3 separate regions of the Homo sapiens genome follow, and all the other regions are linked to region 3. The links come from fine-mapping of genetic effects on gene expression. A gene starts in region 3. Each other region holds a variant in brackets. All regions are shown on one strand. Distances are from middle to middle. Region 1 overlaps ADAMTSL2 (ADAMTS like 2). Region 2 holds the start of LOC102723855 (a long non-coding RNA gene). Region 3 holds the start of ADAMTSL2 (ADAMTS like 2).

Region 1 (7,407 bases), 30 kb before region 3:
CGGGACGGGTCAGGGCGTCACAGTAGCTGTCATCCACCTCGACGCCATCATAGCGGACACACATGGCGTACGCAGACATGACCCCTGGGTTGGGGACAGGGGTGGGTCTGTGAGCCATGCCGGCACCTTGGAGCCCAGCAGACAGGCCTCAGGACTTGGGGCAAGTCACCTGACCTCTCAGCTCAGCTTTCTGGCTTGGGGATCAGTCACAGCTTGTGCAACTGTGGCATGAGGGCAGCACTGTGGGTCTGAGCTGTGCGGGTCTGAGCTCTTCTCTTTGCACCCCCACCCCGCCCCACCCAACCCAGCTGGGCTCCCAGTTCCCATGTCACGGAGTCCGGGCTTTGAGTCTGCTCCAGCTGGCCCCCGTGGAGGTGCAGAGGCAAACACAGTCAGGTGTCCCCCATCGCCAGGCGTTCAGCAACCACCCATCCCTGGGTGGACAGGCAGGCGGGAGTGACATCTGACGGCTCCAGCCCCGTCAGCCTCCTCAGAGGTCATGGTGGGGGTTCGGGCGCGCCCTGCCCTCTGTGGCATGCCCCAGTCCTTAGCAAGCATCCTCTTGAACTTTCTTTTTTTGAGATGGAGCCTCACTCCGTGGCCCAGGCTGTAGTGCAATGGTGCAATCTCAGCTCACTGCAACCTCCCCCTCCTGGGTTCAAGCAATTCTCCTGCCTCAGCCTCCCGAGTAGCTGGGATTACAGGCATGTGCCACCACACCCGGCTAATTTTTGTATTTTTATGGAAATTGGGTTTCACCATGTTGGCCAGGCTGGTCTTGAACTTCTGACCTCAGGTGATCCGCCCGCCTTGGCCTCCCAAAGTGCTGGGATTACATGCGTGAGCCACCGCGCCAGGCCTGAACTTTCTTTAATCATCACTGTGTGCCTGTCTTTGTTGGTGCCCCGTACTCTGTAATCCCACTGGGGGACAGTGGGTGACAGGCAGCCCTCACCTAGCAGTGCCACTTCCTTGACCACATCTCCACCTTCTGCTTCTTTCGTCCTCGCCCCTGCACCCTTGCCTGGTACCGAACTGCCACACAGGCCCAGCTCCCTGCCCAGGAGCAGGATGATTCTGGGAGAGCCGGCAGCAGTGGGAACGGCCTTGGGGTGGGGTTAGGGTTTGCTGCTTCTGCTGTGGCTGTGTGTGTGTGTGTGTGTGTGTGTGTGTGTGTGTGGCCACGGGAGACAGACCCAGCCTTCCGGGATGACGGGCATCATGGAACGGTCTTGGCTGCAGCTGCCAGTTCCCCCAGAAGGAAATCGGTTTCCCCATATCCAGAGAACCCAGCCGCCCGGCGGCGTGTGTCTGCAGGCCAGCGGCTCCTGCCTCTCCAAGCCCCAGCGCTGGATGGAACGAAACAGCCTGGGAAGCAGCCGACAAGGGGATTTTTTCTTTTTTCCGTAAAGGACGAGCCAGGCTGCAATCACGGTTCCTCTCCCGCCAGAGCTGGGCCGTGCAGCCTTTAGCCTTCTCTGAGGGGGAGGCTGGCTTCCCGGCCAGGTCTGCTTGGAATGTTCCAAGCCTCAGAGACACCCGCTCTGGGGCCCAGGGAGGTGCGGGGCTGGGGACTTGCAGACCATCGCCAAGTGCCTGGTTATTCATTCGCTCCTCGTCACGGAGTGGAAACGCGGCAGGCCTTGGTCAAGAGAGACTGGAATCCAAGTCCCAGCTCAGTGCCTCCCTGGGGTGACGTGACCGTGACCAGACTCCAGGCCTCAGCATGCTCCTTCCCGAAATGGGAACCTTCCAGAGAGCCTGTGAGAATCAAATGCCAGGACGTTTTTTCTGGGCACCCTCTTCATGACACCCATCTCGAAAACGGTGCTTTTCAAACCCCCTGAGCCACGGAGCCCCTCCTTGAAACAAAAGAAAGGGGAGGATGAAGCCTGGGGGCCGCAGGATCCACTGTCCTCACCACGGTGCCCTGGAGCGCCGAAGGGCAGCAGAAACTTCCACCTATGACCTGAGCCGAGGCCAAACTCACGCTCCTCTGTTGCTATGGCTCCAAAAGAGTGTCTTCGAAGAAAAATCTAAAAACAAGCTTCCCCACCGCGGCCAAAGCTCAGGGCAGGCTGATCTGCCCCACTGATAGAACTGCCCTGTGCCTGGGTTCTTGCGAGGCACAGGATGGAGGGTGGGCCAATGACCATCCATGGGACATCCGCACGGACACAACCTATGCAAAGGGTGGACCCTGACTCTGTTATTTCTGCCCAGTGCCATTCAGCACCTCCCACAGTGACAGGGAACTCTCCCTCCCTCCTGCCCTCCCTTTCTCTCTCTCTCTCTCACCCTCTCTCTCTCTCCTTCTCTCTCTCTCCCTCTCCCTCTCTCTCTCCCTCTCCCTCTCTCTCTCCCTCTCTCCCTCTCTCCCTCTCTCTCTCTCTCCCTCTCTCTCTCTCTCTCCCTCTCTCTCCCCCTCTCTCTCTCCTTCTCTCTCCCTCTCCCTCTCTCTCTCCCTCTCCCTCTCTCCCTCTCTGTCTCTCTCTCTCTCCCTCTCCCTCTCTCTCTCCCTCTCTGTCTCCCTCTCTCTCTCCCTCTCTCTCTCTCCCTCTCTCCCTCTCTCTCCCTCTCTCTCTCCCTCTCTCTCTCCCTCTCTCTCTCCCTCTCTCTCTCCCTCTCTCTCTCCCTCTCTCTCCCTCTCTCTCCCTCTCTCTCTCCCTCTCTCTTTCTCTCTCTTTCTCTCTCTCCCTCTCTCTTTCTCTCTCTCTCCCTCTCTCTCCCTCTCTCTCTCCCTCTTTCTCTCTCTCTCCCTCTCTCTCTCCCTCTTTCTCTCTCTCTCTCCCTCTCTCTCCCTCTCCCTCTCTCTCTCTCCCTCTCTCTCTCTCTCCCTCTCTCTCTCTCTCCCTTTCTCTCTGTCTCTCTCCCCCTTTCTCTCTCTCTCTCTCTCTCTCCCCCTTTTTCTCTCTCTCTCTCTCTCCCTCTCTCTCTCTCTCCCTTTCTCTCTGTCTCTCTCCCCCTTTCTCTCTCTCTGTCTCTCTCCCCCTTTCTCTCTCTCTCTCTCTCTCCCTTCTCTCTCTCTCTCCCTCTCTCTCTCTCTCTCCCTCTCTCTCTCCCTCTCTCTCTCTCTCTCTCCCTCTCTCTCTCTCTCTCTCCCTCTCTCTCTCTCCCCTTCTCTCTCTCTCTCCCTCTCTCTCTCTCTCTCTCTCCCTCTCTCTCTCTCTCTCTCCCTCTCTCTCTCTCTCTCTCTCTCTCCCCCTTTCTCTCTCTCTCTCTCTGTCTCTCAGGGTGGCTCATTTCCATTTCTGAACAACCTCCTGTAAAGCAGAGTTTCCTTCTTCCAAAGCCAAAACCTGTCTTTCTGATTTCCTGTTGTCCTTTGCCCCACTGCACCTTGGGCCACGCTGCACAGACCCAGTCCAGCCCCCTCCCTGCCATTCTCTGGGTGTTGGGAGACAGTGCTGTGTCCTCCCTGGGGACATCTTCCACGCAGGGCTGCCCATCAGGCCCCTTGCCAGCGAGGCTGCCTCACCCTGCAGACGTCTCGAGCGACGTCCCCTCTCCAGCCAGCGATGTGTCTGGGAGGAATCACAGATGTTTGCAGACACTTAGTGACAACGCCCACAGGCTTGACACTTACTGACAACGCCCACACGCTTGGAGTCCCCTGGCCAGGAAGAGTGGAGGAACTCAGGGCAGGTCCGCAAAGGACTTGGCAAAGCAGACACCCTGCTGACACCCCA[C/T]CACCATGCTCAGCTCCGCTAGGGGTCTGCCCGGAAGGCAGGTCACATGGCTCACTTCCAAGGCCAGCTGCTCCTGGGTATGGTGGAAGCCGCACCCTGCATCAGGTGGTGGCAGCCACCCTCAGAACGGCAGCATCCATTGACCTCTGACCATGAGAGGCTATTCCTTGTTTCATGTGGATCCCCACAACCCACCTTTGAGATAAGCAGGCGTCCCAGTTCACCTGTGGAAAACAGTGGCTCGGAAGGCTTTGGCAATTTGCCCAGGGCCCATGGTGTGGTCAACCAGGCGGTGCAAGCCTGGCCAAGCCGGTGCCCACCACGCCGCCCACAGCGGTGCGAGCCTGGCCAAGCCAGGTGCCCACCACGCCGCCCACAGCGGTGCGAGCCTGGCCAAGCCGGTGCCCACCACGCCGCCCACAGCGGTGCAAGCCTGGCCAAGCCGGGTGCCCACCACGCCTCCCACAGCGGTGCGAGCCTGGCCAAGCCGGGTGCCCACCACGCCGCCCACAGCGGTGCGAGCCTGGCCAAGCCGGTGCCCACCACGCCGCCCACAGCGGTGCGAGCCTGGCCAAGCCGGTGCCCACCACGCCGCCCACGGCGGTGCGAGCCTGGCCAAGTCGGGTGCCCACCACGCCGCCCACGGCGGTGCGAGCCTGGCCAAGCCGGTGCCCGCCACGCCGCCCACGGCGGTGCGAACCGGGCCCAGCCGGGTGCCCGCCACGCCGCCCACGGCGGTGCGAGCCGGGCCCAGCAGGGTGCCCGCCACGCCGCCCACGGCGGTGCGAGCCGGGCCCAGCCGGGTGCCCGCCACGCCGCCCACGGCGGTGCGAGCCTGGCCGAGCCGGGTGCCCGCCACGCCGCCCACGGCGGTGCGAGCCTGGCCGAGCCGGGTGCCCGCCACGCCGCCCACAGCACTTGCTTTTTCCCTCCAGGATGCCAGGCGCAGGGGCGAACACAGCATGCCCCATGGCTATGCCCTGTTTGGGGGCTCTTGTAACAGGAGGCAGAGCCCTTTCTTCAGTCCCAGAGAGGCAAGGCCAGTGTGAGCAGAGCCTGCAGGGCCGCCCCAGCCCCTCCCTCTCTCGGGCCCATCTCCTGAGATGCCAGCAGGGCTGCAGAGGGTGCGGCCAAGCTCAGACTGCCCAGCTGTGTGGAATCCTCACTGGCCAGAGACTGCAAGGGCATCAAATGCCCTGGCAAATGGGTGGCACTGGGGCGGGACCAGGAGCATCAAACCTTTTGAGGGCCAGCTGGGTATCCTCTACATCCAAACATGAAGCCCCAAGAATAGATAAAATGTGACCTCACAGCCGGCACTGGGGTCTCCCTGCCATATTTTCTCCCATCAACGGCCCTGTATCCTGATCCTGGGTTTGACATCAGACCTCGCGGCATCCCCCAGGGGAGGGTACTAGAGTGGGCAGCAGAGGCAGCTCCAGCTCTAGCGGCTGTGGCCAGCGTCTCAGGGCGATGGTGGCCGTGCAACCAGACAGCTGTGGGTTCAAATCCCAGCTCAACTCTTACTAACCACACACATCTGTCTGTCCAGGCACCACCGAGGAGGGTCTTTTTTCCCCTCCTAACTTCTCCCCTGCTGATGAGGTCCTAGAATTTGCCTACTTCCCTTCGTCACAGATCACAGGGGCCTATGACTCCCTTCCTATGTTTGCTGGAAGCAAAAGTAAAATCTCTGCTACCTAAGATTTCTTACTTTTAACCCAAAGGATGTTTGCCCTAACAAAACATGGTATCACTGGCAACAGACAAGGGCTACCACCAATGGGTGGTAGCCCGGATGACCCCCAGGGGCCTGGACCTGACCATGGTCTAGCACACTGTGAGAATGAGGGTGGCCTCACCAGACACCCAAACTCCTATCACGCCACACTGCCCCCAAGTCAGGAGGCCACGGACAAGCACCCCGAGGGCAGTTTGGGGGCTGCAAGCTAGTGGGTGGGCCCCACAGCCCCAGCCCATGTCCATGGAAATGGGTTCAGGGCAGTTGCTGCCCCTTGGCACCCGTGACCAGTACCTGTGGTGCAGGTGGCACTGCAGGGCTCGTGGGACGAGAGCTTCCACCGGTACATGTCCGCGGGACTCACGCCTTGCTTGCGCGCCTTGGGCCTGGTCCTGAAAGCGAGACCAAGCAGGGAAGGTGATGAGACGCTCCAGGCCCCACCGGCAGGCTCCGGCTTTTCAGGCGAGGGAGTTTTCTTCGGAGGGTATGTTCGCCTGAAGCACACACCTGTCCTGAGCCCCGGGCCGACCCTCCACCTGCTACGGTCAGAGTTCCCACTGTCTGAAGTGGAACGGATGAGGCGCCCGCAGAGGGGCACATTTTAGGATTGATTGGCATTGTTTTCCATCTCAACTGCATGGGAGCTGCCCGAGCTCCTTCCGGAGGGGAGGGGTGGCCTGAGAATTTGGGGCCCCCAGCACTGTAGTTGCTCCCTGCACACACGCAGGCTTCTCAATATTACCTTCTCACATCAGCTAGTGGGTTCCTTCTTCCCACCGGGGAGGGGACCTCAGAAGGTGTCTTATGTGCTAAGAATGTTCCAGAATTCTCTCCCACCCCCTCCTCCAGCTGGGACTCTGATGGAATGGGGGACACTAGGCATCCAGCCTCCAATTATCAAAATTAAAAAGCTCGGCTGCTGGCAGGGGCCGAGCCTACAGTGCAATTCAGGCAGGCCATGGCTGCACGGACCTGCTGGGGTCGGGGGAGGCACGCTGGGTCCCAGCCAGCCACCAGCTATGATTCTTGGCTGGAGCCTATGCAGCCAAAGCCAACTATTGTTAGGACTGTTTGCTTCTTTGAACCAGTAGGTGTGCCTGGGCCCAACCTCCACATCCAATGTGCAGGCTCATTCTGGACTCGGCAGGGGAGGAGGGAAGCAGAGGCGGCAGCAGCTCCACAGCCCGGGCATCTGCTCTGGGACGCCACCATGGAGTCCCGCCGCCCCTGAGCCAGAGAAGGGGCGATGGCAAGCCGGCGCGGTGGACAGCAGGTCCTTCGAGCCTCGACTTCCTTTTTAAACTGGACAGTGCAGCAGGTGGCATTGCCCAACTCCACTTTCCTCTGGGCCCAGAGGGGCTGGCTAGAGATGACCCCAAGCCGCCATACTTCACTGGGCTGAAACGTGGGCCAGGTCACAGGTCCTTCTTCAGGACCTTCAGTCACCTGGGGGTGGTCAGGCTTAGAGCATTATATTCAGAAAGGCTTTCAGATTGACTCCGTGATACAGACATGGGTTTGGATTGAATGGGGAGTTTACAATGTGTTAGGCAAGCGGGTGAGCATTGCTCTTCTGTTTTGCTTGGACTGGAATGGGAGGATCCCACAGCCAGGCAGTATTTGTGGGGATGAACGCTGCCTTGACCACACATCTGAGGCCCCAGGAATGATCTACCCACAGGAGCTTCAGCAGTGAGTTCACTGGTGTGGCTCCCTAAACTCAGGGAGGGAGAAGAGGAGTGAAGGGAGAAGGCATGGGGACCAAGGCCCAGGAAGGGCTGCGGGCTGGGGGCTGGTCCCACTGTTTCTTCAAAGCCTCCTTCACCTGGGAGCTTCAAGCCAGGAGAGTCTGTCCCATCCTGGGGCTCAAGGGGAAGGGAAGAGTGCCTTCTCCTCCCTCTTTCAGAACTTAGAGGAAGCTTTAAAAATGGGGGTGGGGGCCAGGCGCAGTGACTCTTGCCTGTAATCCCAGCACTT
Region 2 (7,407 bases), 45 kb after region 3:
TCGCCAGCAACCCCAGAGATCTATTCCGGGGACCCGGCCACAGCTGGGCTCCCGAGCCCCACATCCCCCAGCCCGAGGTGCCCTCAGGCCTTCCAGTGGAACATTTTTGACATAGTCTAAACCATCAGCAAAACAAGATGAAAATTCAGTAATTGCTTTTGGCAGGGAGTCCATGGGCCAGCACAGAGGCCAAAAATAACCCCGGGGAAGTTTCCTGGGCCACCTGCAGCCCTGGGGGCCCGTACTAGGCTCTGTCTGAACACAGGCCAGGACGGGTCTCGGCCTGGCCCTGCAAGCCAGCCTGGACAAAGCAGGGAGGCGGGCAGGGACTCGGGGGGCAGCGGGACAGAGTGAGGCTGTCACTTAGCACACTTCAGGCCAGGAAGTGCCCGGCCATCCGGAAAAATGTAATGTCATACTTTAGCAAGAAAAGCAGCTGTCATGCTACTTAGCAGCCCACAAATAGTTGGCTGAGTCCTAGAGCGGGTGTTGGCTGAGCCTGGGAGAGCAGAGATGCCAGGCTGGCAGGGCGGTGTGGGCCTCGTCCGGCCAGGTGGTATTCCCTCCCAGCCCCTCGCTCCCCCAGTCTCCCCCAGGCCTGGTCAGTCCCCAGCAGGCTGTGGGGGGCGCGAACCCCCTGAGGTTACAGCCCAAGGTCGCTGCACATCTGGCCACGGTAGGGGGACCTCGTCTGACCCCTCCCTTAATGCCTGCTGGGGAACCCCAGAGGGGACAGGAGCTCACTTCACCGGGTCAGAATCAGACCTCTCACCCACATCCCAGGCAGCCTAATCCTTTCCTCCAGGCCTCAGGGCCTCATCTGTAAACTGAGGCTGTCAAAGATGGTGGTCAAGGTACCAGAAGCCCATTAAGTAGCCAACCAGCCAGGCTCAGGGCTGACCCCCGCGCTCTCCTCTCCCCCATTTTACCGATGAGGAAATGAAGGCTCACGGAGGGAAGACCACACAGCGAGGATTGAAGCTTGGGTGGGACCCCAGGAGCAGAGCGGGCAAGGACGGCGGCTTCCCAAGGAGGGCTGATTGGCCTGCAGAGGGGTCAAGGACAGTGGTGTCCCTAGGAGGGGCTGATGCACCAGCAGAGGAGACGGGCCAGCCCCACCCTTGCCTTATCCAATTCCTTCTTCATCCCCCTAAATGGGATGCCCAGAATGCATGTGGGTTGCCTGAAGCCCCTTGAAAGCCCCCGGAGTGTCAGATGGGGGGTGTCCAGCCAGGTCTTTGGTTGAAGGAAAAGAGAGAGAACCCACCAGAGCCCAGTCCCGGGCGGGCTTCGCCTGCAGGAGGAGCCCCACCCCATGCCGTCCCGGTGAGGAAGTCAGGCGACACCTCTGTGCACCTGGCCATCTGCTGTCTGCGTACCTGCTCCTGTCCAGTCTGAGTGTCATTGGGTGTTTTTCATTCTCACCTTCCAGAGGATACCGAGGCTGGAAGAGGCACAGTGACCGGCACAGGGCCCCAGGGTCCTAGGTTGTACTAGGTCTCAGATGAACGCATGACCTAAAGCCACCCACCTCTCTGGGAGCTGGGCCAAGTGCAACTTCCCACCCAGGCTGTCCTCCTCCCTCCCTCCTCCTCCAAGTCCTCCTCCAGTTCCTCCTCCCCTCCTCCTCCCCCTCCTCTCCCTCTAGCTCCTCCTTCCCCCTCCTCCTCCAACTCCTCCTCCCCCTCATCCTCCAGCTTTTCCTCCTCCCCCTCCAGCTTCTCCTTCTCACTGTCCTCCTCCCTTTCCTCCTCCCCCAACTCCTCCTCCTCCCTCCTCCACCTTTTGCTCCTCCCTCTCCTACTTTCCATCCTCCTCCCCCAACTCCTCCTCCTCCCTCCTCCACCTTTTCCTCCTCCCTCTCCTCCTTTCCATCCTCCTCCAACTCCTCCTTCTCCCCCTCCCCTCCTCCTCCAGCACCTCCTTCCCCTCTTCCTCCTCCAGCTCCTCTTCCTCACCTTCCCCCCCTCCTCCCTCTCCTCCTCCTCCTTCTTCTCCCTGCTTCTCCTTCTCCAGCTCCTCCTCCCCCTCCAGATCCTCCCCATCCTCCTCCTGCAGCCTTGAAGCAGTAGGGCCCGACTGTCCCGACAGCACCCCTGCACGCCTCTGAGGACGATTCCCCAGTGCCCCTCAGGGTGTGGCAGTGAGGAGGGTGCCTAGATCCAGAGCACACCCATGAGCCAGCCCCTTCCAGCCTCCAGGTCCCTCAATCCCCAGATGAAGAGAGAGTGACACCGGGTGTCCAGCAGGAGTGCATGAGGCTGCAGCAAACAGAAGCCAACCCCATCACTCCACATGGACATCCAGCCTCCAGACACTGCCTGAGAGCCCCTGCCTGCTTCCTTCCCCAGCAGCGTAGCGTGGGTCCCACCCTCCTGCCTCGGTCTCAGCCTCAAGACTGGGTCTCACCCTCATGGTTGCCAGTGAGCAGCTGCCTCCCCCGGCCACGCGACGGGATTCCAGGCAGGAAAAAGAGGGCAGGACCCAAAACGTTTTCCAGTGAGACTTTACCTCTCTAATCAGGAAGAGCTGCCCCAGACCCTCCTGTCTAGCCCTCGTGGCCTCTGCACCGACACGTGGCCACCTGGCCGCAGGGAAGGCTCATTGCCATCCCCAAGCAAAATTAGGGTCCTTTCAGAAGGAAGCAGAAAGGAATGGAGGTGGCAGTATAGCCCCACAGCCCCCGGTGACTGACCTGGAGGAAGAGTGACTTTCCCAAAGCCACTCAACTAGGGAGTGCTGGAAATACAGGCTGGATTGGAGTCCATCTGTCCCCATGCCCGCTCTCTCAACAATGGCACAGAGCAGCCTCTTCCCCGAGGGGGGAGCTTGCCTTGCCCCTCTATGGGCCACTTTAACCTGGCCTTGCAGACACCCACCAGCCCACATCCAGGCTGGTAGAAAGGATGCCAGTGTCACTCCATACCCAGCTTCCTGGTTAAAGACACACATCCAAACACACAGAACCCATGTACACATAAACACACATATATACACATGCACACACACGGGCACACACACAGGCAAACACACATAGGCACATCCCTACACAGAGACACACACACACGCACACACGCTCTGGCGGGCTGCCTGCTCTCACACCTCTTTGCAAACCAGCTTGAGCTGCAGTCCTGCCAACCCCACCCCAGAACTCTCTCTGGCTGGCTGAGCCCCGTCCCCAGGCCCACCCTGTCACCCTTTGCACTGTCTAGCCCGGCAAAAGCACATACTTTCCTAACCTCAGGCATCTGGCTGCCCAGCAGCCCCTGGAAGGTGGGGAGGGGAGGTAGGAGACAAGGCGGGAAAAACCCCAAGGTAGAACCACAATGTTTATAAAACGGGCCACTGAATTATACAGAACAATATTTTCCTTGCGGATGCGATTCCTTCCTGGCCAAGCTGCACGGAGATGCCTGCTCTCACCCCAGGCCCTCTCTGCGAGGGCTTGGCCTGCAGGAGCCACCAGAGCTAGGCGGGTGGAATGAGTTGGCCCCTGGAAATGCATTGGAAACCACACAGCCTTCTCATGGGCGCTGGTCAGAAATACAAACGCACAGAGCAGGCATACACTGCCCTGGTCGGCCTGCGTTTCTCGTTAGCACTGGGCCTGCAGGCAGGGCTGAGGCCCAGGGTGGCAAGGGCCAGAGGCCATCCTCCTGCTGCCCTGCTCTGGGGCAGACATGGGCTCCTCGGCCTGCGTACCTGGGCTTCCCTGCAGCCCTCGTCCCTGGTCCTGATGGCTCCTGGGCCAAGGCTGGAAGCCACTTCTAGGAGTGCGAATGACTGGAACTTTCGGACCTGATCTCAGCACTTGGGAGGAAGAAGCCGCAGGTTCTGCCTCTGCCTCGGGCAGCCTCTGACGGGATGCGAAGAGGGACGTGGGTTTGAAATCCCCAACAGCCCAGCCCAGACCACCCTGGCAGACTCTACCAGCCCGTACTGTGAGTTACTAACTCCACCCCCCGACCTCAGAAGCTGGGTCTCAGGGTCTCCATTTTTACTTCTTCTTCTTTTTTTTTTTTTTTGAGACAAAGTCTTGCTCTGTCACCCAGGCTGGAGTGCAGTGGCGTGATCTCAGCTCACTGCAACCTCCACCTCCTGAGTTCAAGCGATTCTCCTGCCTTAGCCTCCTGAGTAGCTGGGATTACAGGCGTGTGCCACCACACCGAGCTAATTTTTAAATTGTTTGTAGAGACGGGGTTTAGCCATGTTGCCCAGGCTGGTCTCGAACTCCTGTCCTCAAGCAATCCACCTGCCTCGGCCTCCCAAAGTGCTGGGATTACAGGCCTGAGCCACTGCACCCAGCCTTCGAGGTCTCCATTTGACAAGATGCGTTGAGGGGTGAACACGGAGAGGCAGAGAAAGCTGGAGCCGTGTGGAGCTGGGGGAGTCAGGCGCCTGCCTGCAGCCACTCTCCTCCACCAACAGAGAGGGGACATGACAGAGGGAGCAGAGAGAACAGCCCCCAAGGGGCCCCTGCTCCCTGGGCAGAAGGCCAGAGGCTCCGGCGGCCATGCTTGCTGCCTCCGCCAGGCCATGTGCTGCTTGGGGCCATGTAGAGCCTGATTCTGAGAATCTGCGGCATCCCCCAGGTGGGTGTGCGGGACAGGGAGGAGGCTCACAGAGAGGCTTGTGGGGGGAAGCAGGGAGGATCAGCCTCAACATTGCTCTGCCAGGAACCGGCCTCCCTCCTTTCTCCGGGTGTGCCCTTCCTGTAGCAGGCAGGATGGGCAGGGGAGGGAGGCGG[C/T]TCCGTGGCGCGCCCCCACGTCCTGTCCTGCTTATGACAGCTCAGGGAGGCCCCGGTCTAGCCTGTAGGCCTTTGCTCTCTCAGTCCCCCCACCTGAAAGGCCACCCCACTGCTTCAGGAGGTGCCCCAAACCTCCAGGCTCTACCTCCGTCTCCCCCTCTGCACGACGCCTCTAAAGCCACCGCTCGCTTCCCGGCTCGGCTTTTCCAGGGCAGTAGGGGCAGCACGCTGGACTATGGTCTGCCCAGAGACAGAGACAGAGGAAGCGTACAGCCCCCCGGCTGCCCCATCATGGACACCGAGGTGTGTACTTTGGCTTCAGAAAGCTGGAGGAGGGAGAAGAGCCCCACCTACGGGGACCCCAGGAAGGACAAAGCGTGGTTTGGGAATGTGGAACCACGGCCTTGCCGCTCACTTGCCCCTTCTCGGTGGCTGCTTCTCGGAGGCTCCAGAGGCCTCCAGTTCCCTGAGGGGAGCAGTAGCTGGTGCAGAAGAACACAGAGTGACTTCTGAACTCCCCATAGTCTGTTCCTCTGCCTGGAACAGCCTCCCTGGGGACCCCGGCCCTGGCCTACTCCTCCTACACCCTAGAGCTCATCTGCCCCTTCCTGCAGGCCCTACTTACCCAGCCCAGCCCCAGCATGCTGCAGTGAGTCCAGCCTTCCCATTCCTGGTCATACCCCAGCTCCGTCAGGGATCCTGTTTACCCTGTTTCCCCGCAGGGGCTGGCTCACAGTAGAAATTTTTTTTTTCTTTTTTTTTTTGAGACGGAGTTTCACTCTTTTGCTCAGGCTGGAGTGCAATGGCTCAATCTCGGCTCACCGCAACTTCTGCCTCCTGGGTTCAAGCAATTCTCCTGCTTCAGCCTCCTGAGTAGCTGGGACTTCAGGTGGCCGCCACCATGCCCAACTAATTTTGTATTTTTAGTAGAGACGGGGTTTCTCCATGTTGGTCAGGCTGGTCTCGAACTCCTGACCTCAGATGATCCACCTGCCTCGGCCTCCCAAAGTGCTGGGATTACAGGCTTGAGCCACCGCACCCGGCCCACAGTAGAAATCTTGACAAGTACTTGTTCCGTGAGAGACGGCGGTGGGGGGTCTTGGAGCCTCCAGGAGACCTTCCAGCCCGAAGGTCTCCCACACTCCTCCCAGCCCTAAAAATGCTTCCCTGCTTCCTATGTCGAGGTCAGGGAGGGAGCTGTTGCGGCACAAAAGAGCATCAGGGCCCTGGGCCAGGGCCACAGGCAGCATTCTCTGACTCTAGAGCCCGGCTCACAACTTACCTCCGCCCTATGATTTTGTTAAGGAGATTATAGATATGGAGATGGGGAAAGAAGATAAATAGAAAATGTTAAAAATCTGTTCTCTCTGGGTAACAGGATTTGTGCTTATCCACATCCACAATCTCAAAATGTTCTGCACCAAAACATAAAAAGCCTTCAGCTCCTCAGCCCTGGCCTGGACTACCCAGAGGGCACCATGCAGCAGACGATGCGATTCTATCTGTAGCCACCAGGTGGCAGCAAAGACCAGGGCACCCGCCTGGCCCAGCCCCAGCCTCCCACGGCACCTGCCTTCCCAACAGGGCCCAGAAGTGGGGTATTGTGAGCCCCATTGGATGACCAGGGAAACCAGGATCCAGGTGGGAAAAGGCACCTGCCCATGTCACAGCCCAGCACGGGCAGAGCCTGGACTAGAACCCCCATCTTCCAACTCACCCGCTCATTTCACCAGTACCTAGGGGTCACTTGGCTTTAACTGCGATACCCAAAAGGGCCTTGCAAAGATTCAGACGGGGCCAAGGTCCTGCAGCCAGCCTGGAGAGGAAGTGGATTTGAGCCCGATCTGCCTGAGCGCCGGGGCTGCGCGAGGCTCTCAGCCCAACATCCGGGGCCGTCCCCAGGAGCACGCCCCCTGCCTGCAATGGCAGAGTCCGGTGCCACCCAGGGGCCCCGCTGGGGAGTCTTGGGGTCCCGTTGGGGCTGCTTTGGGAAAGGGTGGAATGGAGTGCAGCCCAGGGTGTCGCTGGGAGGCCCCGCTGTGCCTCCCCTAACTCCGTGCCAGGCCCAGGCCCCCAACACTTTCCTGGAGCCCACATTAGCAGCAGCTTTGGCAAGGTCCGTCCCACACCAGCCAGGCCGAGAGCAGGAGGAACAGCAGGACAAGGGCTGCAGCCAGGGTCACGGAAGGCGCCAGGGTCACGGAAGGCACCAGGTCCGAGTCTTCAGGGTCATCACCAGGGACATCTCTGGGGACGTTGGGGACACCGGACAGCTGGGTGCCAGAGACCTTCTCCCCTGGGGGCCCTGGGCAGCCCATCTGTGGGAAGGAGGAGGCAAGGGGCAGGACCTCCTCGGGGAAGGCCCCACCTGCCCACCCTCTGCTGTCCCTCTGGTCTGCTCCCTCAGGAAGGCCTGATGTGGGTTGCATAGGCCAAAGCAGGGGGCATGAGGTGACCTAGAAGTGACCCTGGGCAGCAGCTCTGAGCTTCAGTCTTCTCCTCCATAAAACAGGGGTGAAGAAGACCCCCAGAGTGGGATGAGTATTCCCGGCATCTGCTCCCCGCCTCCCACCTTCCCAAGACACGGCAGCCCTACTGTCCCCTCGGAGACCTCGGCCCTGGTGCCAGGCCTGGAATGCAGCTTGGCCCGTTTCCGGGGA
Region 3 (6,948 bases):
TTGGGTTCAGATCTCCTGGGTGGCGCTGGGGGGAACTCCCAAGGAACCGTGGGCCACGGGTCCTCCTTGACCTTAAGGTCCAGGATGGCCTGGGGGCTTGGCAAGCTCCTGGGGCCGCATCTAACTGTCCTCACTTTCCCCGGAGCAGCTCAGGGCCCAACTGCGTTCTGCAGGACACAGCCTACCCTGGCCGTGCTGGGGCCTTCACTTGGAAGGGAAGCACTCAGCCCCCTCAGCCCTCGCCTGCCAAGTCGCCAGGGGCTCCACAGTAGCCAGGGCCCCAGTTCAGAGGCTGATCTGACTGGCTCTGGGCAGAAGTTTCTAGGAGCCAAGATGGGTTCTGGGACCTGGGGCACGTGCCCACACGGCTCCCTCCAAGCCAGTCCATCTGAGAGTGATCACAGCACCTGGGTAGGGGACTGGCATGGGCCCTCAGACCACAACACCCCACTCACCGTGGACCCGGTTGACACTGTGTCCCCAGCTACAACTGCCAGAACCAGCAGGAACCAGGCCCAGCAGGAACATTGCCATCTGCCATCCATCCTAGGAAGCAAGGCCACTGTCACCACCAGGCCAGCTCCGATCCTCTTCCAGATGACCAGGGTACGCTTTGGGAAGAGCCCTCGGGGCCCAGCCAGTGCCCAGGCCTCAAGGTTATCTGGGACTAGTTGGTCGTGGTTGTCTGGCAGACCCTGTTGGGAAGGATGAACCCCCCGCCTCAGTCTAGGCTTAGCAAGAAGGAGCTTGGTGAATGATTAGTAATGCCTGCTTCAGGCAAGACACCCAGCGGCGGTGTGCGTGCTAAGCCTGTGCCACCCTTGATCCAAGGGCATGCAGGGAAGCATGCCATGCTTTGCCTCCAAGTCCTCAAGCCCCCTAGAGAAGGGCTGTGGAGACAGCCAGCCTCGGCTGAGGGGGCTGGGGACCCAGGCGGGGGGAAAGGCTCTGGTTCGAAGGGATGGGCCTGGGCTCAGTCCAGCGCCTTGGCAGGAGCACCTTGGGATTTTAACTGGCTCAGCTCTTGCTGGCCTCGCAGGAGAATGGCCTCTGCCACTGGCTGCTAGGGTCAGTGCATGGGGATGGGCTTGGCCAGGTCCCGGGGGAATGTGCAGCCTCGCCCTAGACCAGCAGCTCCACAGTCAGCATCCAGCAACAGCCGGCACTCAGGTGAGGCAGAACCCAGGTACCTATGCCGCCTCCCGATCCCCGGAGAGAAGATGGAATTGGGGGAGGGGCAGGGCAGGAGGAGGTGCAGTTTGTGCCAGCATGTCAGCAGTCCAGGGCCACAAGGCTGACTTCCTCCCAACAGCCAGCACCCTTGGCTCAAAACACCTGCCAGGGGTCAAAGCAAGCCCATTGGAAGGGACTGTCCAGCCTCCAGGCCCTCAGCTCTCCCCACCCCCTCCTCAGCGTCGACCCTGCCCTGTGGAAGGGAAGACCAGAGATCCACCATGACCTCTGTCCAGGCCTTGCTCAGGTGCTGAGGGTCACTTGCCAGCGAGTTAGAGAAGGGATTTCAGAAACCACGCAGCCTGCACTCATAACCTGGAGCCCAGAGAGGGGAGCCAACCTGCTCAAAGCCACACAGCAAGGTAGCACACTAGCAAACTCAGGGACTCGACCCCCACGCCTGGCCAATTCCAGGGGAAGAAGGCATGGAGGTCACCCCTCACCCCTGCCAGGCCAGAGGCCAACTCGGGCTCTGCCCCTCCCTCCTCAGCAGCCTCCATCCAACTTGAAGAGTTTCCTTGCAGGCCCGGCACCTGCAGATTTTCAGGGGCCACTCCAAGGACACCACTGCAGCCCGGACGACGCAGCAGTGCACCCTGGAGTGGGGAGCCTGAGTCTGACCTCCCCTGCCCCCGCCGCCTGCCCCCCACCTCCCTCCCCTGCAGACCTCCATCTGCACTCTCAGCCTCACACCCACAGGAGCCCCCTCCACTGTGCCATTGGCTAACGGGTGCCCCAGCCTCTGCCTGCCGGCTGAAGACAGGTGCCAGCCGGCCTCACACTTGCTTTTTTCATTAAGGCTTCCAGACACCACTGGCTTCTGGCCAGGCCTCGCTCACGGGGATCCATCCCTCCCTGGGGTCCAAAAGCAGCGGCTGGCGGCAGCAGAGAGGTCTGCCGTGCACACAGAGCTCCGGGCGCACAAGGCTAGGTGCTGGGAGGCCACCCTGCCCCGTGCTCTGCGGCCCGACCCCTCCCCACAAGCCTCCCCACGTTATGTAACGGCTCCAGAGGGCGCGGGGTGCTCCTACCCCCAGCCCCACTCTGAGCAGTGGGCTGGCCTGGTGGACGCTGCAACGTGAGGGGGACGGGGACGAGGTGGCCTACCTGGCTTCGGGTCAGCAGGTTGTCCTCCCAGAGAAAGGGGCGAGCGCTGCGGAGGGCAGACGGCGCCAGGTGCGCTGTGCGTGCGGGGGCGGCGTGAGTGCAGAGGCTGCGGCCCGGCCTCCCTCTCCCCTTCCCCTCCTCCCCCGCGCCGCCTCCCTCTCCCACTTCAAAGAGCATCCAAGAGAGGGGGTTCCCGGGAGGGGCGCAGCCCAGTGGCGGCTCTGCGCCGGCGGCCGCCTTTATAGCTGTCAGGCAGACGGGGAGGAACACTCACACTTCCCACCAGGCCGCTCCCCCGCCCGCGCCGGCCGGCCTGGCGCACACTTTAACCCGCTCTGCGCCTCTGGAGCCCGGCCAGGCCGGCCCAGCTGCCTGTTGGCTGCTGCCGGCGGCGGCGGCCCAGGAGCGGCGAGCAGGGAGGCCTTCTTCCCGGGTCCAGAACTGGGGGCCACATGTCGGGTGTCCAGACGGAGCAGCCGCTGGCCTGAGGTTACCGGGGAGGCTGGCGGTGGCAAAGCCCCAGCCCCGCCTGTCCGGCTTCTGCCTCCAGAGCGGGCCCTGTCCCTGGGGCTCCTGAGAATGGGGTCTGGGATGTATGAGGTGTCCCGTCTGATGGCTCCGTTGTACGGAGGGAAAGGCTGAACTTCCGGGACGACCGTGCCCCAGGTCACGAGCCTCAGAAAGCTCCCGAGATGCAGGGGCCTAAGCAGGTGGAGGGACGCAGGGAGACCCAGCGAGAATGAACCAAGGGCTCCAGGGAGGAGACAGATGTGCCCGTGGCCTGCTGACCAGATGGCTAGAGCAGCCAGGGCCAGGGCAGAGAGGCTCAGGGATTCTGCAGATGTCCAGCACCAACTTGGCAGCCCCTGGCAGGCCAGGCCTGGAGCTCAAGCCTCTGTTCCTGCTGAGTCAGGGCACAGAGGGGAGCGAGAGTGGGTGGAGCAGCAGAGCCCCCCTGGGAAACTCCCGGCGGGCCCCAGACTTTGTGAGGCTTTCCTAAAGCAAGGCTGGGCACCTAGCCTCTGCACACCAGCTTCCCCAGAGCCCATCCTCGGCAAACAGAGGCACCTCCAAAAAGGGGAGGAGGAGGAAGCTGGGGCACCATTCCATCAGGTCATCTGTGTCTTTTCATCCATGCCCCTGCCTCCATGCAGCAGATGTCCTGGGCCCACAGCAGTGCCGGGAAGACACTTCTCCTTCCCTCTGTCCTCCCTGCTGGAAGAAACTTGTGAGTTCCTTCAGCTGCCTTCATGAGAAAGTTCTGCCCTGTGTCTGACCACCCACCAGAAAGGCTGGGAAGGAAAGCCACCAGTAATAGTAGTGAAAGCGATAATACCGTCTGCCCTCTGTCCAGCTTGTCCTACGGGCCCAGAGCTGTGAGGCCAGATCCACCTTTATGATCTGCATTTCACAGGTGGAAGAACTGAGGTTCGGGGACCAAGTCACCTCTCCAGTAGGCAAGGCTGGGATGCCAGCGCTCCTGAGTGTCGGGTTCTCTCCTCTGCCGGGTTGTTTAAGTTTCTCTCCCCGGGACCCTCGGGCAGGCAAGTCTTATTCATCTCATTCTCCTGCTGGGGCAACTGGGATGCAAGGTGGCTGCTCCTAGTCACAGGGCCACCTGCGGTGTGGAACCAGGACTAACCCTAACCCTAACCCAGGCCCACACTGCCCCCTGGGGTCGCTGTGCTGAATCACAGACATGGTGGCACCTGTCACCCAGCACACACACACACACACACACACACACACACACAGGCACACACACACCCAGTCCCTCTCACATGACCGGATTACACTCGCTCTGGGTGCCTCTGCCATCCCCTTCCTCTCTCTTCTGGTGACCGCCAGGCCTCGCACCCCTTGGCACAGTCCCCGAGCTCTCCTGGCGTTTGTGGCCTCACATCCAGCCAGCGCCAGGGTGACTAACGGTTTCCCTTGGGAGGGACCCCACAGCCGACCAACACAAACACCCCCAGTGTCTTCTCTTGGCTCAGCAGGACGGCACAGGCTGCAGGCTGGCCACCTGGGAGACGGGTCTGTGGGGCCAGCCATCCCCTGGCTCTGTGACCTCCTGCAGGTGTGTGACCCTCCAGGCCCCAGCTCCCCTGGCCAGCCACACTTCCACACCACCCCCACCCCTTACCCCAGAGCCTGCAGACTTGAGGCCCACAGGGAGCCATGACTGGCACGTAGCAGGTGCTCTGGTAGCTCCTGATGCCAGGGGCTCCTTACCCCTTAGAGAGTGCTGTTGAGGTGAGTCCCCCACTCTCCAGGATCCCTCTTCGGCCTGCAAATTCCCGGCCTCTCAGGGCCTTCCCCATGTAGGATGGTCTCAGCCCACACCTACCGGCACTTGTAGGGGTGTTGCAGCCGTATGGCCCTGGTGCTGGAGACACCACCTGCCTTTAGAAGGGGATTGTTGGCCAGGCGCAGTGGCTCATGCCTATAATCCCAGCAGTTTGAGAGGCTGAAGCAGGGGGATCACACGAGGTCAGGAGTTTGAGACCAGCATGGCCAACATGGTAAAATCCTGTCTCTACTAAAAATACAAAAATTAGCTGGGCGTGGTGGCGGGCACCTGTAATCCCAGCTACTCGGAAGGCTGAGGCAGGAGAATTGCTTGAACCTGGGAGGTGGAGGTTGCAGTGAGCCGAGATCTCGCCGCTGCCCTCCAGTCTGGGTGAAAGAGTGAGATTCCGTCTCAAAAAGAAAAAAAGAGAGAGAAAAAAAAGAAGGGGATTTTCTCCGCCAGTGTTTTCCAGATATCTGAGGAGCTTAGAAATAGGACAGCAGGAATATGTGTGGGGGATGCCCGGGAGGGTGGGGTTCCAGGGAAAACACGGCGGGGATAGAGAAGCAGGCTTGAGGCAGAGGGGCTGGTGGGCCGTGGCTGACCACTTTGGAGGTTCCCTGGGGAGGATGTTAGGCTGCCGCAGTGGGAGCAGGGCCTGTCCTCACAGCAAAGTGGCCACAGCAGGCTCGGGAGTTTAAGGACGTGGCCCGAGCTGTCGAGGTGGGTCCCCTCTCTGTCACCCAGAGGCCTAGCAGGCCTGGCAAATGTATGTGTGTAGTGTGGTTCACCTAGCCGATAGGGCTGGCCGGCCACAGCCTCAAGAGTGGCCCACCAATACCACCTTCCCTGGCATCCTGCGGTTCTTCTCTGTTGCCAGCCCAGGACCCAGAACATCCTAGGAGCCTCCTGGGCAGACCCAGCCAGAGTTCTCACACCTGACTGGGACGGGGCCACCAAGGGACCATGTGGCCAGCTGGGAGGTGGCTGGCAGCCCCGGAAGAGGACCAGGACTCAGAAGGCAGCCCCAGGGAAAGAGCGAGGGGGCCTCAGCAACCCCAAGAGCCGTCCCTGTCCCCGAGCTTCCTTCCTGGCCCAGGATAGAAGCCAGCTGTCCCTGAGACCCCCCTGGGGCTGGATATACGGGAAGAGCCTCCCCCGCCTTCCCTGGCTGGTCCCAGGTCCATGCACGACCACTGGCTGGCCAGGTCACTTCAGGCCACTTGTCCCTGACAGGCCGAGTTTCCTGGTCTGTTGCACAAGGTCAAGGTCCTTTTTTAGCCCCAGACATCTCACAGGCACACTCAAGAGACAACTGAGACAAAAGCAGAGGTGGGGGCTCCTGCTTCCCCTCTTCTCCCCAGCAGCCCTGAGGCCCCTTCTGGGCACCAGGACTCCTGGAAGCATCATCTGAAAGCTGGCGGACCGGAAGAACCCCAGCCCCCAGCAGCCCCTCGGGCTCTGCTCGCACACGGCCATGACCTCCAGAGATGCCCCGTGTCAGGGATATCTGCTGGGGGCAGGAGGACATCACCAAGCCAGTGAGCTCTTTCTTCCATGCCACCCACAGTGACCAGGGGCGGGCAGCCACTGGTGTCACAGCCAGGTGAAGCAGGAAACCCAGGACCTTGGATCCCGACACTCAGAAGGGCCCCGTCTCAGAGGCTTAGCGTGGAGGCTCAGCATAGGAAGCAGCAGCTCTTCCAATAGCACAGCAACAGCAGCCTCACGCGTGAGTGCCTGGAACCGGACTCTTTGGGTTCAAATCCTGACTCCGTCTCTCTCCAGCTGGGTGACTTTGGGCGAGGGCAGAAGCTTCTCTGTGCCTCAGCTTCCTCACCTGTAAAGTGGCGGTGATAAGGCACTCCCCATGCTGGACTCTTGTGAGGCTGAAATGAGTCCATATGGGAGAAGGGCCTGGGATGGTGGTGGAGAAAGGAAGGGCTGCACGTGCTTTGCTCTGAGCCCAAAGGGTAGCCCGGGGCCAGTGTCTACTCTGCTGTCATCCTCCATCCTGACAATGCCACATCAGGTAACACTGCCACGCCCAGACAGAGAAGGAAGCTGAGGCCAAGGCTTGGACCCCGCCTGAGTCCAAGTGGACTTTCTCAGCCTGGCCAACTTTCTCACATTGTCTCTCGAGTGTGCCTGTGAGATGTCTGGGGCTAGGATGGGGTGCCTGTCATTGGTCCAGGATGGGGTGCACCTGGGTCCCAGGAGAGCCCAGAGCAGCAGGACGTGCTCAGCCTCCCCACCAGGACCAGCAGCGGGACCCTCCCCGATGGCCTCCACTGCTGTTCCTGGAGCCCAGGGCCTTG

What was found. PIP is the estimated chance that this variant, and not a neighbour inherited with it, causes the effect.
Region 1: its variant is fine-mapped to the expression of ADAMTSL2 in lung (TOPMed, PIP above 0.99).
Region 2: its variant is fine-mapped to the expression of ADAMTSL2 in whole blood (TOPMed, PIP above 0.99). The same link has a PIP of 0.9 or more in blood mononuclear cells.

Annotation. Positions count from the first base shown.
Region 1 is chr9:133,559,613-133,567,019 of GRCh38, reverse strand. It overlaps ADAMTSL2 (ADAMTS like 2), which reads right to left. Exons shown (of 19, transcript NM_014694.4): 12 at 5,725-5,822; 13 at 1-84. Among named protein-coding and RNA genes, the nearest start is that of ADAMTSL2, 29 kb to the right of the region's middle. The variant C/T (reference allele first, on the strand shown) is at 3,690.
Region 2 is chr9:133,485,349-133,492,755 of GRCh38, reverse strand. It overlaps LOC102723855 (a long non-coding RNA gene), which reads right to left and starts at 1,045. Exons shown (of 3, transcript XR_428608.4): 1 at 1-1,045. RefSeq lists enhancers at 6,327-6,841, 6,842-7,357. The variant C/T (reference allele first, on the strand shown) is at 4,748.
Region 3 is chr9:133,530,310-133,537,257 of GRCh38, reverse strand. ADAMTSL2 (ADAMTS like 2) reads right to left here and starts at 2,554. Exons shown (of 19, transcript NM_014694.4): 1 at 2,341-2,554; 2 at 456-695. The coding sequence starts at 545. RefSeq lists enhancers at 1-443, 984-1,525, 2,066-2,607, 2,608-3,147, 3,148-3,689 and 1 more and a silencer at 3,948-4,037.